Homo sapiens: one gene and its partners. The protein of the gene in region 2 interacts with the protein of the main gene of each other region in a pairwise test. Each region holds a gene or a part of one and is shown on either strand. Other genes may lie near its edges.

What was found. Proteins that work in one complex are often made in the same cells at the same time.
Region 1: the proteins of HNRNPM (region 2) and TSGA10 interact in binary tests that used the Homo sapiens proteins (3 or more experiments, as listed by UniProt).
Region 3: the proteins of HNRNPM (region 2) and HNRNPF interact in binary tests that used the Homo sapiens proteins (3 or more experiments, as listed by UniProt).
Region 4: the proteins of HNRNPM (region 2) and LMO2 interact in binary tests that used the Homo sapiens proteins (3 or more experiments, as listed by UniProt).

What each region holds. Positions count from the first base shown.
Region 1 is NC_000002.12:99,001,443-99,004,942, reverse strand, and holds part of TSGA10 (testis-specific gene 10 protein), read left to right. Parts: intron 1-3,500. UniProt on the Homo sapiens protein: Plays a role in spermatogenesis. When overexpressed, prevents nuclear localization of HIF1A.
Region 2 is NC_000019.10:8,472,475-8,475,974, reverse strand, and holds part of HNRNPM (heterogeneous nuclear ribonucleoprotein M), read right to left. Parts: intron 2,312-3,500; coding exon 2,267-2,311; intron 1,809-2,266; coding exon 1,731-1,808; intron 1-1,730. UniProt on the Homo sapiens protein: Pre-mRNA binding protein in vivo, binds avidly to poly(G) and poly(U) RNA homopolymers in vitro. Involved in splicing.
Region 3 is NC_000010.11:43,388,687-43,392,186, forward strand, and holds part of HNRNPF (heterogeneous nuclear ribonucleoprotein F), read right to left. Parts: intron 1-3,500.
Region 4 is NC_000011.10:33,861,077-33,864,576, reverse strand, and holds part of LMO2 (rhombotin-2), read left to right. Parts: intron 1-3,500. UniProt on the Homo sapiens protein: Acts with TAL1/SCL to regulate red blood cell development. Also acts with LDB1 to maintain erythroid precursors in an immature state.

The DNA.
Region 1 (3,500 bases), on a different chromosome or scaffold from region 2:
GTGGATAAGCTTTTTGATGTGCTGCTGGATTTGGTTTGTGAGTATTTTATTGAGGAGTTTTGCATCAGTGTTCATCAAGGATATTGGTCTAAAATTCTCTTTTTTTGTTGTGTCTCTGCCAGCCTTTGGTATCAGGATGATGCTGGCCTCATAAAATGAGTTAGGGAGGATTCCCTCTTTTTCTATTGATTGGAATAGTTTCAGATGGAATGGTACCAGCTCCTTCTTGTACCTCTGGTAGAATTCGGCTGTGAATCCATCTGGTTCTGGACTTTTTTTGGTTGGTAAGCTATTTATTATTGCCACAGTTTCAGAGCCTGTTATTGGTCTATTCAGAGATTCAACTTCTTCCTGGTTTAGTCTTGAGAGCGTGTATGTGTTGAGGAATTTATCCATTTCTTCTAGATTTTCTAGTTTATTTGCGTAGAGGTGTTTGTAGTATTCTCTGATGGTAGTTTGTATTTCTGTGAGATCGGTGGTGACATCCCCTTTATCATTTTTTATTGCATCTGGATTCCCTCTTTTTCTATTGATTGGAATAGTTTCAGAAGGAATGGTACCAGCTCCTCTTTGTACCTCTGGTAGAATTCGGCTGTGAATCTGTCTAGTCCTGGACTTTTTTTGGTTGGTAAGCTATTAATTATTGCCTCAATTTCAGAGCCTGTTATTGGTCTATTCAGAGATTCAACTTCTTCCTGGTTTAGTCTTGGGAGGGTGTATGTGTCCAGGAATTTATCCATTTCTTCTAGATTTTCTAGTTTATTTGCATAGAGGTGTTTAAAGTATTCTCTGATGGTTGTTTGCATTTCCGTGGGATCAGTGGTGATATCCCCTTTATCATTTTTTATTGCATCTATTTGATTCTTCTCTCTTTTCTTCTTTATTAGTCTTGCTAGTGGTGTGTCAATTTTGTTGATCTTTTCAAAAAACCAGCTCCTGGATTCATTGATTTTTTGAAGGGTTTTTTATGTCTCTATTTCCTTCAGTTCTGCTCTGATCTTAGTTATTTGTCTTCTGCTAGCTTTTGAATGTGTTTGCTCTTGCTTCTATAGTTCTTTTAATTGTGATGTTAAAGTGTCGATTTTAGATCTTTCCTGCTTTCTCTTGTGGGCATTTAATGCTATAAATTTCCCTCTACACACTGCTTTAAATGTGTCCCAGATATTCTGGTATGTTGTGTCTTTGTTCTCATTAGTTTCAAAGAACATCTTTCTGCCTTCATCTCGTTATTTACCCAGCAGTCATTCAGGAGCAGGTTGTTCACTTTCCATGTAGTTGTGCAGTTCTGAGTCAGTTTCTTAATCCTGAGTTCTAATTTGATTGATTGCACTATGGTCAGAGAGACAGTTTGTTATAATTTATGTTCTTTCACATTTGCTAAGGAGTGCTTTACTTCCAACTATGTGGTCAATTTTGGAATAAGTGTGATGTGGTGCTGAGAAGAATGTATATTCTTTTTATTTGGGTTGGAGAGTTCTGTAGATGTCTATTAGGTCCACTTGGTGCAGAGCTGAGTTCAAGTCCTGGATATCCTTGTTAAGTTTCTTTCTCGTTGATCTGTCTAATGTTGACAGTGGGGTGTTAAAGTCCCCCATTATTATTTTGTGGGAGTCTAAGTCTCTTTGTACATCTCTAAGGACTTGCTTTATGAATCTGGGTGCTCCTGTATTGATTGGGTGCATAGATATTTAGGATAGTTAGCTCTTCTTGTTGAATTGATCCCTTTACCATTATGTAATGGCCTTCTTTGTCTCTTTTGATCTTTGTTGGTTTAAAGTCTGTTTTAGGCCAGGCACGGTAGCTTACGCCTATAATCCCAGCACTTTGGGAGGCCGAGGCAGGTGGATCACGAGGTCAGGAGTTCAAGACCAGCCTGGCCAAGATGGTGAAACCCTGTCTCTACTAAAAATACAAAAATTAGCCGGGCATGGTGGCACTTGCCTATAATCTCAGCTACTCAGAAGGCTGAGGCAGAGAATTGCTTGAACCTGGGAGGTGGAGGTTGCAGTGAGCCAAGATCGCACCACTGCACTCCAGCCTGGGCGACAGAGTGAGACTCTTTCTCAAAAAAAAAAAAAAAGTTTGTTTTATCAGAGACTAGGATTGTAACCCCTGCTTTTTGTTGTTGTTGTTTTCCATTTGCTTGTTAGACCTTCCTCCATCCCTTTATTTTGAGCCTATGTGTGTCTCTGCATGTGAGGTGGGTCTCCTGAATACAGCACACTGATGGGTCTTGACTCTTTATCCAATTTGCCAGTCTGTGTCTTTTAATTGGAGTATTTAGCCCATTTACGTTTAAGGTTAATATTGTTATGTGTGAATTTGATCCTGTCATTATGTTGTTAGCTGGTTATTTTGCTCGTTAGTTGATGTAGTTTCTTCTTAGCCTCGATGGTCTTTACAATTTGGCATGTTTTTGCAGTGGCTGGTACCAGTTGTTCCTTTCCATGTTTAGTGCTTCCTTCAGGAGCTCTTTTAGGGCAGGCCTGGTGGTGACAACATCTCTCAGCATCTGTTTGTCTGTAAAGTATTTTATTTCTCCTTCACTTACGAAGCTTAGTTTGGCTGGATATGAAATTCTGGGTTGAAAATTCTTTTCTTTAAGAATGTTGAATATTGGCCCCCACTGTCTTCTGGCTTGTGGAGTTTCTGCCAAGAGATCTGCTGTTAGTCTGATGGGCTTCCCCTTGTGGGTAACCGGACCTTTCTTTCTGGCTGCCCTTAATATTTTCCCTTCATTTCAACTTCGGTGAATCTGACAATTATGTGTCTTGGAGTTGCTCTTCTCGAGGAGTATCTTTGTAGCGTTCTCTGTATTTCCTGAATTTGAATGTCGGCCTGCCTTGCTAGATTGGGGAAGTTCTCCTGGATAATATCCCGCAGAGTGTTTTCCAACTTGGTTCCATTCTCCCCGTCACTTTCAGGTACACCAATCAGATGTAGATATGGTCTTTTCACATAGTCCCATATTTCTTGGAGGCTTTGTTCGTTTCTTTTTATTCTTTTTTCTCTAAACTTCTCTTCTTGCTTCATTTCATTCATTTGATCTTCAATCACTGATACCTTTTCTTCCACTTGATTGAATTGGCTACTGAAGCTTGTGCATGCGTCATGTAGTTTTCGCGCCATGGTTTTTAGCTCCGTCAGGTCATTTAAGGTCTTCTCTATGCTGTTTATTCTAGTTAGCCATTCGTCTAATCTTTTTCCAAGGTTTTTAGCTTCTTTGCGATGGGTTCAAACGTCCTCCTTTAGCTTGGAGAAGTTTGTTATTACTGATCCTCTGAAGTCTACTTCTGTCAACTCGTTAAAGTCATTCTCTGTCCAGTTTTGTTCTGTTGCTGGTGGGGAGCTGTGTTCCTTTGGAGGAGAAGAGACACTCTGATTTTTGGAATTTTCAGCTTTTCTGCTCTGGTTTCTCCCCATCTTTGTGGTTTTAATCTACCTTCGGTCTTTGATGTTGGTGACCTACAGATGGGGTTTTGGTGTGGGTGTCCTTTTTG
Region 2 (3,500 bases):
TCCTCACAGCAACAACTCAAATTCCCTAATGACTAATCTGTTCTTAAAAAAAAAAAAAAAAAAAAAAAAGAGAGAGATGGGGTTTCGCAGTGTTGCCTAGGCTGATCTTGAACTCCTGAGCTCAAGCAATCCTCTTACCCCAGCCTCCCAAAGTGTTGGGATTACAGGCGTGAGCCAGCACACCCAGACTAATCTGCTCTGAGTAACATTTTACCAAGCCAGATTTCTGAAACTTTTTTTAAAAATTAAAATCCCATGCACACACAAGTTACAGGCAAGCTTGAATGTACACTGGAAACGCAGACCTCTGTTGCTTTATTACTAATGGTGACAACTTTCCTACATCCTTTTACCAGCTTCTAGAACAAGGCACCCATGAAGAGGGCAACACACATCATGCCCCACTGCTCCCTGTGCACCGGAAGAAGGGCCTGATCATCAGGGACAGCCGCCTTTCAAGCCTGACAATGATGTCTGTCCTTGTACCATTTTCACATCCTTTGTTATGGCAGACCCGCAAAGGAAGGTTTATACCTAAATCCCTAATGACTTCTCAGTCCAAGAAAGTTTCTGTGTAAAAAAGCAGCAGCTTTCCTGCAGTGAAGGGGAAGGTCAAAGAGTCACCAACACATAAAGGATTTCAAAAAGGAAAATTTACAATTTCTCATGCACACTCTACAGCCCTGCTGGTGCCCTGGGCCAAGTGCTGTGCTGGAGGCACTTCTAAAAGGCAGGATTCCCACATGATGAAGTGCCAGGCTCTGGAGCCAGACAGCCTGGGTTCACATGCAGGCACCACTGTTTACCAGTCACTTGACCTAGGCATGTCACTCTCTGTGCCTCAGTTTCAGATGAAACAAGGATAGCAGTATGTACATATCATGTGGTTCTCACAAGGACTAAATGAAATACTACATTGTTATTATATTATTATATTTCTGCTAAAAAGTTGGGGGCAGGTGCCGAGCACGGTGGCTCACGCCTGTAATCCCAGCACTTTGGGAGGCTGAGGCGGGCGGATCACATGAAGTCAGGAGTTCGAGGCCAGCCTGGCCAACATGGTGAAACTCCGACTCTACTAAACATATAAAAATTATCCAGGCATGGTGGCACACACCTGTAATACCAGCTACTCAGGAGGCTGGGGCAGGAGAATCACTTGAACCTGGGAGGCGGAGGTTGCAGTGAGCCAAGATCGCACCATTGCACTCCAGCCTAGGTGACAGAGTGAGACCCTGTCTCAAAAAAAAAAAAAAAAAAGTTGGTGGAGGATTTGAATTATACTAAACCAGAATTTGCATTATGTAAATGCTAAATTAAAAGAGCCTGTGATTTTTATTAACGCCTCTATAGACAACTTGTAGCTGGGGCAGATGACCAAGAACAACCCTTTGCAGCACTCCCAGAGACAAACTTGATTACAAACTTTAAAGAATCCCTCATACTCGGAGACCATAACCACGAACGTGTACATGCTTTTTAACACTGTACTCGAAAATTACTGCAGAGCTTGGGAACACAGGACATCTCAAAAGACTAGCGACCAAGTGAAGTAAGTCTACTATTATGTCTAGTTTTTGAAATATTTAAGGCAATTCAAAAGACATTTGATTCGGTTGAAAAGCAGAAGTGAGAAACCACTTATTCAGTGGGTCTGCAGCCTAAAAGTCACCTGAGAGGCAACAGCCGGCAAAGGGTGAGTGAAAGCAGGAAGAAAACACGATGCTTACCATTTATCCTGCCCATGTTCATCCCAGATCCAAATCGACCCATGTTTTCCATACCACCACCAAAGGGCCCCTCCATTCCTGCAAGAGAGGTTCACATTTCAGCATCATCCAACAAGACTGCTTAGACTAAGCAGGGAAAGAAAAATTCTATCACATGTTTCAACTGGGGTATCTTCTGCCAAGAACTTACCAAGTTTAAAGGCTTTTGAAAAACAAAAAAAATGCTAGCACCCTTGTTTAAAAATCACCCATCTTCAAAAAGCTGGTCTGATCCAACCCCCTCAATGAATAGACAAGCAAAAAGAGGCATAGAGATGGAGTGGTCTGCCCAAGGTCACAGAGCTAGTTAGTGAGACAGCCAGAACCAAAAGCCAAGACACCCGCTGGAAGGATGGACAGGCAGGAGGAAGTCATTTCTAGACTCAAACTGAAACCAAAGAGAATTTCATGCAGGGTTTAAACAAGAAAGAAAAGAGGAAAGAGAGAAAACTATGCCTAAAAGTGATTATGCTTGTACTTCATTTTAAATTTCTTACCTCCCATTTTATTTATTCCAAATCCTATGCCTTCCATTCCCATTCCTTAAAAAGAAAAAGTCAATGCAAACTAAAATTATGTCAAAGCAGTAAATAACGTTTGAACTTAAAAAGCATAATTCCAAACCAGCAAAAGAACTCAAAAGAAAATCCCTGATGACAAGTATATTTTATATATTTTAATCAGCAAGAAAAAAAGCCCTTACCATTTCAACTGTCAAATATCATATAGCTATTTTTTTTTTTTTTAAACACAGTATTGCTCTGTCACCCAGGCTGGAATGCAATGGCACAATCTTGGCTCACTGCAACCTCCACCTCCCGGGTTCAAGCAATTCTCCTGCCTCAGCCTCCCGACTAGCTGAGATTACAGGCGCCTGCTACCACGCCTGGCTAATCTTTTTCTGAGGGATCTACATACTTTAATGACCCAGTCGGGCAGGGTTTTTGTGTTTTTTTTGTTTTTGAGACAGGGTCTCCTTCTGTCACTGGGGCTGGAATGCAGTGGCATGGTCACAGCTCCCTACAGCCTCAACATCCCAGGCTCAAGTGATCCTCTTGCCTCAGCCTCCCAAGTAGCTGGGACTACGCCACCACACCTGGCTGATTTTTTTTATATTTTGTAGAGATGGAGTCTATGTCGCCTAGACTAGTCTCAAACCCTCGGCCTCCAAATTGCTGGGATTACAGGCATAAGCCACCACACCAGGCCTCAAGTTAGGCAGTATTAAACATGAAATAGAATTATAAGACACATTCTATGGAACATAAACTTTTTAGAAAATTTTAGGGAACAGAAGTAGATTTTTTTTAAGAATCCCTGTTAAGGGTGGGCGTGGTGACTCACGCCTGTAATCCCAGCACTTCAGGAAGCCGAGGCGGGTGGATCACCTGAGGTCAGGAGTTCCAGCCCGGCCTGACCAACATGGTGAAACCCTGTCTCTACTAAATACAAAAAATTAGCTGGGTGTGGTGGCACATGCCTGTAATCCCAGCTACTTGGGAGGCTGAGGCAGGAGAATCACTTGAACCCAGGAGGCAGAGATTGAGTGCGGTAAGCTGAGATTGAGCCACTGCACTCCAGCCTGGGCAACAAGAGCAAAATTCCGTCTCAATAAATCAATCCCTGTTAAAGGTAAAATCTTCAAAATAAAAACCAGTTCCTAAAAACACCAAGACTTCCTCCCCAACCCCCAGTCTTTCTGTTTAGATGTCAGACATGGGGTGTGTGTGT
Region 3 (3,500 bases), on a different chromosome or scaffold from region 2:
ATCTGGAAGAGGGCATCGGGAAGAAAGGGCAATCGCAAGAGGGCTGAGAAATGCCCTTCCCACCAGGGTGGTACATGGCACCTGAAGTCCAAACTCAGAGTAAGGCCAACCACACACTGGAAGGCAGTCTTCTGAGAAAGAGGAGCAGCTGACCTAGACAGCAGGGTCTATAACATAGTCACAAGCAAGAAAAACACTGCAGTATCATGGGGCCAAAGACGTATTTTTATATGAACACTGTCAAGGGTGACGCTCAAAAAGAGCATAGGAGTATATGGAATTTTTTTTTTTTTTTTTTTTTTTGAGACAAGAGTCTCACTGTCGCCCAGGCTGGAGTGCAGTGGTGCTGTCTCGGCTCACTGCAACCTCCGCCTCCTGGGTTCACGAAATTCTCCTGTCTCAGCCTCCTGAGTAGCTGGGATTACATGCACCAGCCGCCACGCACGGCTAATTTTTTATACTTTTAGGAGATACGGGATTTCACCATGTTGGCGAGGTTGGTCTTGAACTCCTGACCTCAGGTGATCCGCCCACCTCAGCTGCCCAAAGTGCTGGAATTACTGGCGTGAGCCACCATGCACAGCTGGAAATCGAATGTTTCAAAGTGTCATTTTACATCAAGCATAATAGATATAGCTGGTGGCCTTTTCAAGAAATATGGGCTCATCATGTGGGGAAAAAAGCTCCATAAGAAAACCCCACAATTTAAAAAACAGACAAAAAGTAAAGGTAAGTGTAATTTAAGAAAAGGAAAAGCAAATTCATACTAAATAAATGCTCAACTGCACTAGCTTCAGGGAAAATTAGTAATTTTAAAGTTTGATGTAGCCATTGCAGATAATGACATATTATCATACAGTGCTTCATCATTTCAAATTGACAACGTCTAAAAGGATAATTGTGTAAATCTTTCAAATTTACCTGTGTCTACACCAGATTATAAAGATAACAAGATGTGTCTCCTCTCCCAATAACAAGCATAATGGCACAAATGAAACAGAACAGTATGTGATATCCTGAACACATCACCAAGACCAAACACTCGGCATTTACTCACGAACTGTGATTTGGAATGCAAGGGCTTTCAAAGTATACAGCCTAACTAAAAGATGTCACCCTTGCTAATGAGAGTGGAACATGGAAGCCTCTGGGAAGAGAGTCAAGGGGAGCCTAACCTGGATTGCTCATTGCCCACCTCAAATTATTGACTATGTACATAAACTCCATCAACTTTTATAAAATAATCCTGAACGGCAAATGATTGGGCATAAATAATCCTATCCCCAATTCTCAAACTGTGCTTTGGGTCTGCAACAAACCCTGGGGTTTAGCCTCCACCTTAGAAAGTAATGGTCTCCGCCTCCCCAGGGCCTTATCTAAATCCCCTGCATATGGCCACTGCAACATGCTGATCTGGCAGAGCAAGGTCACAGCAGATTCTTCCTCTCCTGTCCACGGAGGGAATTCTGTGCTAACAGTTCAGAAGCTCCTCCTTGGAGAGTCAGGGCAAGTTTGTATTGTGTCTCTTGGGATAATGGGTCTGGGACAGCTCAATTACAGGTGGGGGCTTCTTATGCAATTCCATTCCCAACACTGGGTCAGGCTAGGCACCGCCTGTCCTTTTGTCTTTGACCATACCCTGGTCTTGCTCCTCACTCATGAAAAGTATCTGAAGGCCTCCCTCGAGTTCTGTTCCTAGCCTTAGGTCCAGCCATCGTTCCGGGTAGGGGAGATGAAGCCATAATCCACTAACCATTTTCTCCTGGACTCCTACCTCCAATGATTTCACCATTCCCTGCAGGAAACCCCACCTAATCACATCCTACTCCCTCCACCACAACTGCTATCCCCCTCCTTTGTAGAGACCTTGGCTTCCTTATCCACACAGCCTCTTTCTCTCCTCATTCTTCATAATCCAGCTTAGAGCAAGTATCATTTTACATTCCTTCCTCACAATACATGGAATTCATTCAATGAACTTCTTAACTGTACGCGCCCAGTAAAACCAGAGCTCTGGAAGATTCCAAACAAATATCTGACTACTCCATGGATGTACTGAGTGGCTCAGCTGCACACAGCCAGGCGAAACGGTGCCTCTAAGCTACAATTTCTCAGCCTCAGGACTACTGACATTTTGGACCAGACAGTTCTTTGTGTTGTGGAGGCAGGCCCAGGCACTGTAGGATGTTTAGCTGCATCCCTGGTCTCTGCCCACTAGATGCCAGTAGCACCCTCCACCTCCAGTTCTGACAACCGAATGTCTCCAGACATTCCCAAATGTTCTCTGGTGGCTAATGCTGCCCCCAAGTTGTGAAATACTGTAGAAATCAGGGTGAGGCCAGGCACAGTGGCTCCCACCTATAATCCTAGCACTTTGGGAGGCCGAGGTGGGTGGGACCACTTGAGATCATGAGTTCCAATAGACAAAACCTCTGTCTCGACTAAAAATACAAAAAACTAGCCGGGCGTGATGGTGGGCACCTGTAGTCCCAGCTACTTGGGAGGCTGAGGCAGGAGCATCGCTTGAACCTGGGAGGCAGAGGTTGCAGTAAGCCAAGATCGCACCACTGCACTCCAGCCTGGGCGACAGTGCAAGACTCTGTCTCAAAAAAAAAAAAAAAATTACCTGGACGTGGTGGTGGGCGCCTGTAGTCCCAGCCACTACGGAGGCTGAGGCAAGAGAATCACCTGAACCCAGGAAGCGGAGTTTTCAGTGAGTGGAGATCGCACCATTGTACTCCAGCCCGGGTGACGGAGCGAGACTAACTCCAAAAAAAAACCCACCACACAAGAAAAAAAAAAGAAAATCAGAGTGAACAGCCATAGAGTAAGCGGGCCCTCAATATCGCCCACTGTCCTACCCCAGCACCCTGCTTGTCCAAAGCCCTTCAGATGTCTGGGGCAGCCTTACAGACTCTCACCTCCTCTCCAGCTGGTTGACATTACTCTTGGAAGTGGACTTTGTGAAGTCAAGTCAGAGTCCAGGAGTTTGTAAGCACGTAGTGGGCCCCTTACAGCGGACATCGTGAACAACAGCTCTGCTCTGGGTCCAACCTCACATACCCCGGAGCCATGCTTTCTTCTTTTTTTCCTTTTCCCCTTTCTCCACTGAGCCCTGTCTACTTGGTAATTAAACATGCTCAGTTCTACCCAATCATGTCATACCTCCCCTGTGCCAACTTTGCCTCTAGCTACTTGTTGATTTGTTCAGCAAAATCTTGTCAAAAGGCCTCTACTGTCACTTCCACTCCCCTCCATTAAAACTGCATGATCAAGGCCACGTGTGGTGGCTCACCGCCTGTAATCCCAGCACTTTAGGAGGTCAAGGAGGGTGGATAACCGGAGCCAGGAGTTCAAGACCAGCCTGACCAACATGGTGAAATCCCGCCTCTACCAAAAATACAAAAATTAGCCGAGCATAGTGGTGGACACCTAGGTTGAGCGCAGTGGCTCACGCCTGTAATCCCAGCACTTTGGGTGGCCAAGGCAGGCAGATCATT
Region 4 (3,500 bases), on a different chromosome or scaffold from region 2:
CCCTCGGAAGGGAGGCTGGGTGGTCCATGGACATCTGCAGTCGGTGTGTGTTGCCCCTTACCCTGCTCCAGGCTCGGACACCACCTATAGAAAGAGGTCAGACTGCAGAGGCTGAGTCTCAGCTCCTGTGCTGAGAAGCAGAGGGCATTTCTTCCTGTTTGAGAAGCATGTTCTCAGGGTTACGTTCCTATGTGGTAAAATACTAATATCTTTAAAGGCAAGAGAATTGTATACCCAAAATTCAGAAAAGTGCTTCCCTTGGGGAGCGGGAGAAGCTAGGGGATGGGATTGAGGAGGAGTACACACGGAGGATCAGAGGGACTGGGAGTGTTTCTAAGTTTGGAGGTGGGCTCTGAGGACCTCATTTGAATGCTTCAGAACATATATGTATGTTATAAATTTTTTTTGTATGACTCCAGTATTATATGATGAGAAATTTAAAAATAGAAAGCATATGGAGCTCCAAGCATTGACTCATAGCAGGAAGGCAGTCTTCGAAGAGCAGAAAGGCAAAGGCCCTGTAGGCAGTTGGAGGTTTGAGTCCCAATACCATTGCTTCCCAGCTTGGTGGCCTTGGGCAAGTTATTTAACCTTCCTAAGCCTCGATTTCCTTATCTGTAAAATGGGGATGATAATAGCACCTACCTCTAAGGATGTGGGGAGGATTTGATGGAATAATGCAGATAAACTACTTGGCTTGGTATGGATCAAATAGATGTTAGCTGCTCTTACATAATCATTATTTTCCAATCTAATGAGCAAAGGGATGGAAGAATGGAAGAGTAAAATAGGAACTCGACAACACCAAGTAAGACAGGAGCTGAGGACATCTCCCATGCTCTGGGCCATCCTATTGGCCATCCGAATTTTCCAGCACTGTGTGAAAGCCTTTGCCTAGAATGTACTAGTGTTTCTAGTTTCCGATGAGCTGCTGTGGAGGTAACTGTCTCTGTGCCCTCTACTGTCAGATCTGCTCAACTGTGTAGCTGTCAGTATTTCTCCGTTTTCCTGGAGCAGAGGGTCTGTGAAGCATGCTTCCCTGATACACCAGGACCATCCAACCCATGGAAGCTTGTTGAGACCTCAGCGCCCTTGGCTGCTGGGCCAGCTTTTCCTCCCAAACCTGCCCTCAGAGCATTTTACATTATAGAAACAAAACAAAACCAAAAAAACTGCAGGCAGTTTCACAGTGAAGGAAGCTTTACCTAAAGACTGTTAGAAGAAGCTTTTTGTCCTTGAATTCCCAGATAAAGTTCTTGCAGTCCTTGCAGATATGGTGGTTCCGAGAAAATAAGTAGGATTTTGCAATGATCATGCTTATAATTTTGGTCAGTTTTCTTTTTTTTAAGTCACAGAAAATAGAACTTGGATAAATACAGACCTGGTTTTGCTCACTCCCAGTTTGCCAAGTCAGTGAGAGGGCAGACGGGTAAATGATTCCCATCGGACCCTTGACTCCATCCCTGTCAAATCATTTGAATCTTATTAACTGAAGTGCAGATAGAGTAAGGTCAGAAGAGCCCCAGCTTCTCCCTATCTCTACCGTTTTATATAACATTCAGGAATAAAACCAGTGCTGCCTGGGCTTGTTAATCCTTTCCATTTTCAAAAAGGAGAGGAAAAAAAAAACAGTCTGGGAGAACCCAATGTTAATTAACTTGTGTCTTGGTGACATGAAATAATTCTTCTCCCTGCCACATTCCTAGGCAACATGTTAATTAACTCTGCATTAGTGCAGGCATTTCCAGCCATTCTTTAATATTTATATTATTGTTATTAAAATGGGCAGCAGAGAGCTTAAGATGGGACATCTCTTGACAGAGGAGAAAAATTGTCTTTTGCGTCAGGGATGGTCCTTTAGCCAAGGTCTTGTTTACTGGCATTCTTAGTATATCTGGCAGGATCTTTTAACAAGGCAAGTTGGAGGAGTAACTGAACGGGCCCTCTAATGTGTTTGAGTTCTTCACCCCTAGGATAACTTGTCCCCGTGAGGATTTCCAATGGCTGAGTTGCCTGTTACAGTTCTTTTCCGACATTTAGCTTCAAACATTCATGAGACCCCCATGCAGAACCTCAACTCTGCTGCTGTGTTGTATTGTTGGGAACCCAAGAGCAGCTGTTCATGTCTGTGCTGAGCCAGATCTCCTTGGATCCCTTTTCACTAATTCTTGTGTGCTGGGAGTGGTGGGGTGGCGGTGATGGCAGTGGTTTTGCTTTTAACAGCCAGCACCTGAATCTGTTAGAGCCAGAAGTATGCCTGCCCCAACTAGACCCCCAACGGACCTTAACCAGTGACAGACATGGTGGGAGTACCAAGCCCCGCAGCCTTGCCTGGAGCCAGGCATAACTTATATTCCAGGGTCCCTCCCCTCTGAGGGACTTTGCCTGAGGATACAACTTGGCTTGGCTTCCTCCCCTTCCCTCCAGCCTCCCCTGCTGCCTTCCAGGTTTTTCCTGAGAATGCCTCATTCATAAATCACTGGCACATCAATCCTTGCCTCAGGGGCTGCTTCTGGGATATCCAGCCTAAGATACCAATTCTTGGTGCCAGAGGTTAATGCTCAAGTTAGGTGTCAAGTCCCGGCTTATTTTTTACTAATATTAGAATCTCCGAATCCCAGAGCTGGAAGGGGCTACAGAGACCTTCTTTTTCAGTTCCCTTGCTTTATGGCTTAAGTCACAGAAGCCTGTACAGGGGACTCCATTTGCTCAGGTCACCTGGCAAGTTAGAGGTCATGCTGGGACCTGAACTTGTCTCCCACATATTCGTCCTTTGTCCTTCCCTTCATAGCTGCCTGATGTGGGTTGTAATTTACCCCCTGACTTCCCTTTAATAAGCTCCCTCCTTCCTTAAGGATCGCACACCCCAGGCAGTTGGATTCATTCCATGCACACTGTTTTCTCAGTCGTTCATCCTTGCTCAGGCCCAAACTTAACTTACAGAGCAGTCAGGAAACCAGAACTGTCTTTCCACTCTGTGACCTCCAATGTGGCGGTTACCTGCAGCTCCACCATCTGCTACGTTGGGATAAAATGTTCTCCCCCCAGTAATGAGTTTGCTCCCAGGCGGTGCTTTGAAAACACTCAGAGATCTTCAAATGGAAAGCAGGATTCAGAGGCAAATTAGCTGGCCCTGGCCCGAACAATGAGCTCTCCACTCACAGACCACCTCTTGTCAATTCCATTAATCTCGCCCAAATATTGCAAAATGTGTCAACTGCCCTTAGGTCCCCTACAACCTCTCAGAATGTACCCACTGATTCTCTGATATCCTGAAATCAACCAGAACTTCCAATAAGAGCAAGCATTCACCTAAAACTGTCCTAAAGGTTTTATGTAGAAACCACCTGCTAACATGCTATGTTTTCAGCCACGAGTGAAAATTACTTCCTGCAGCAAGACTGGCACAGCTGGGAATACACCCAAGATGTGTTAAAACATAACCAGCGTTGGCTTAGCCCTTGACCATGGGTGCCCTGACATGCTTCGTTTGGTTGTTT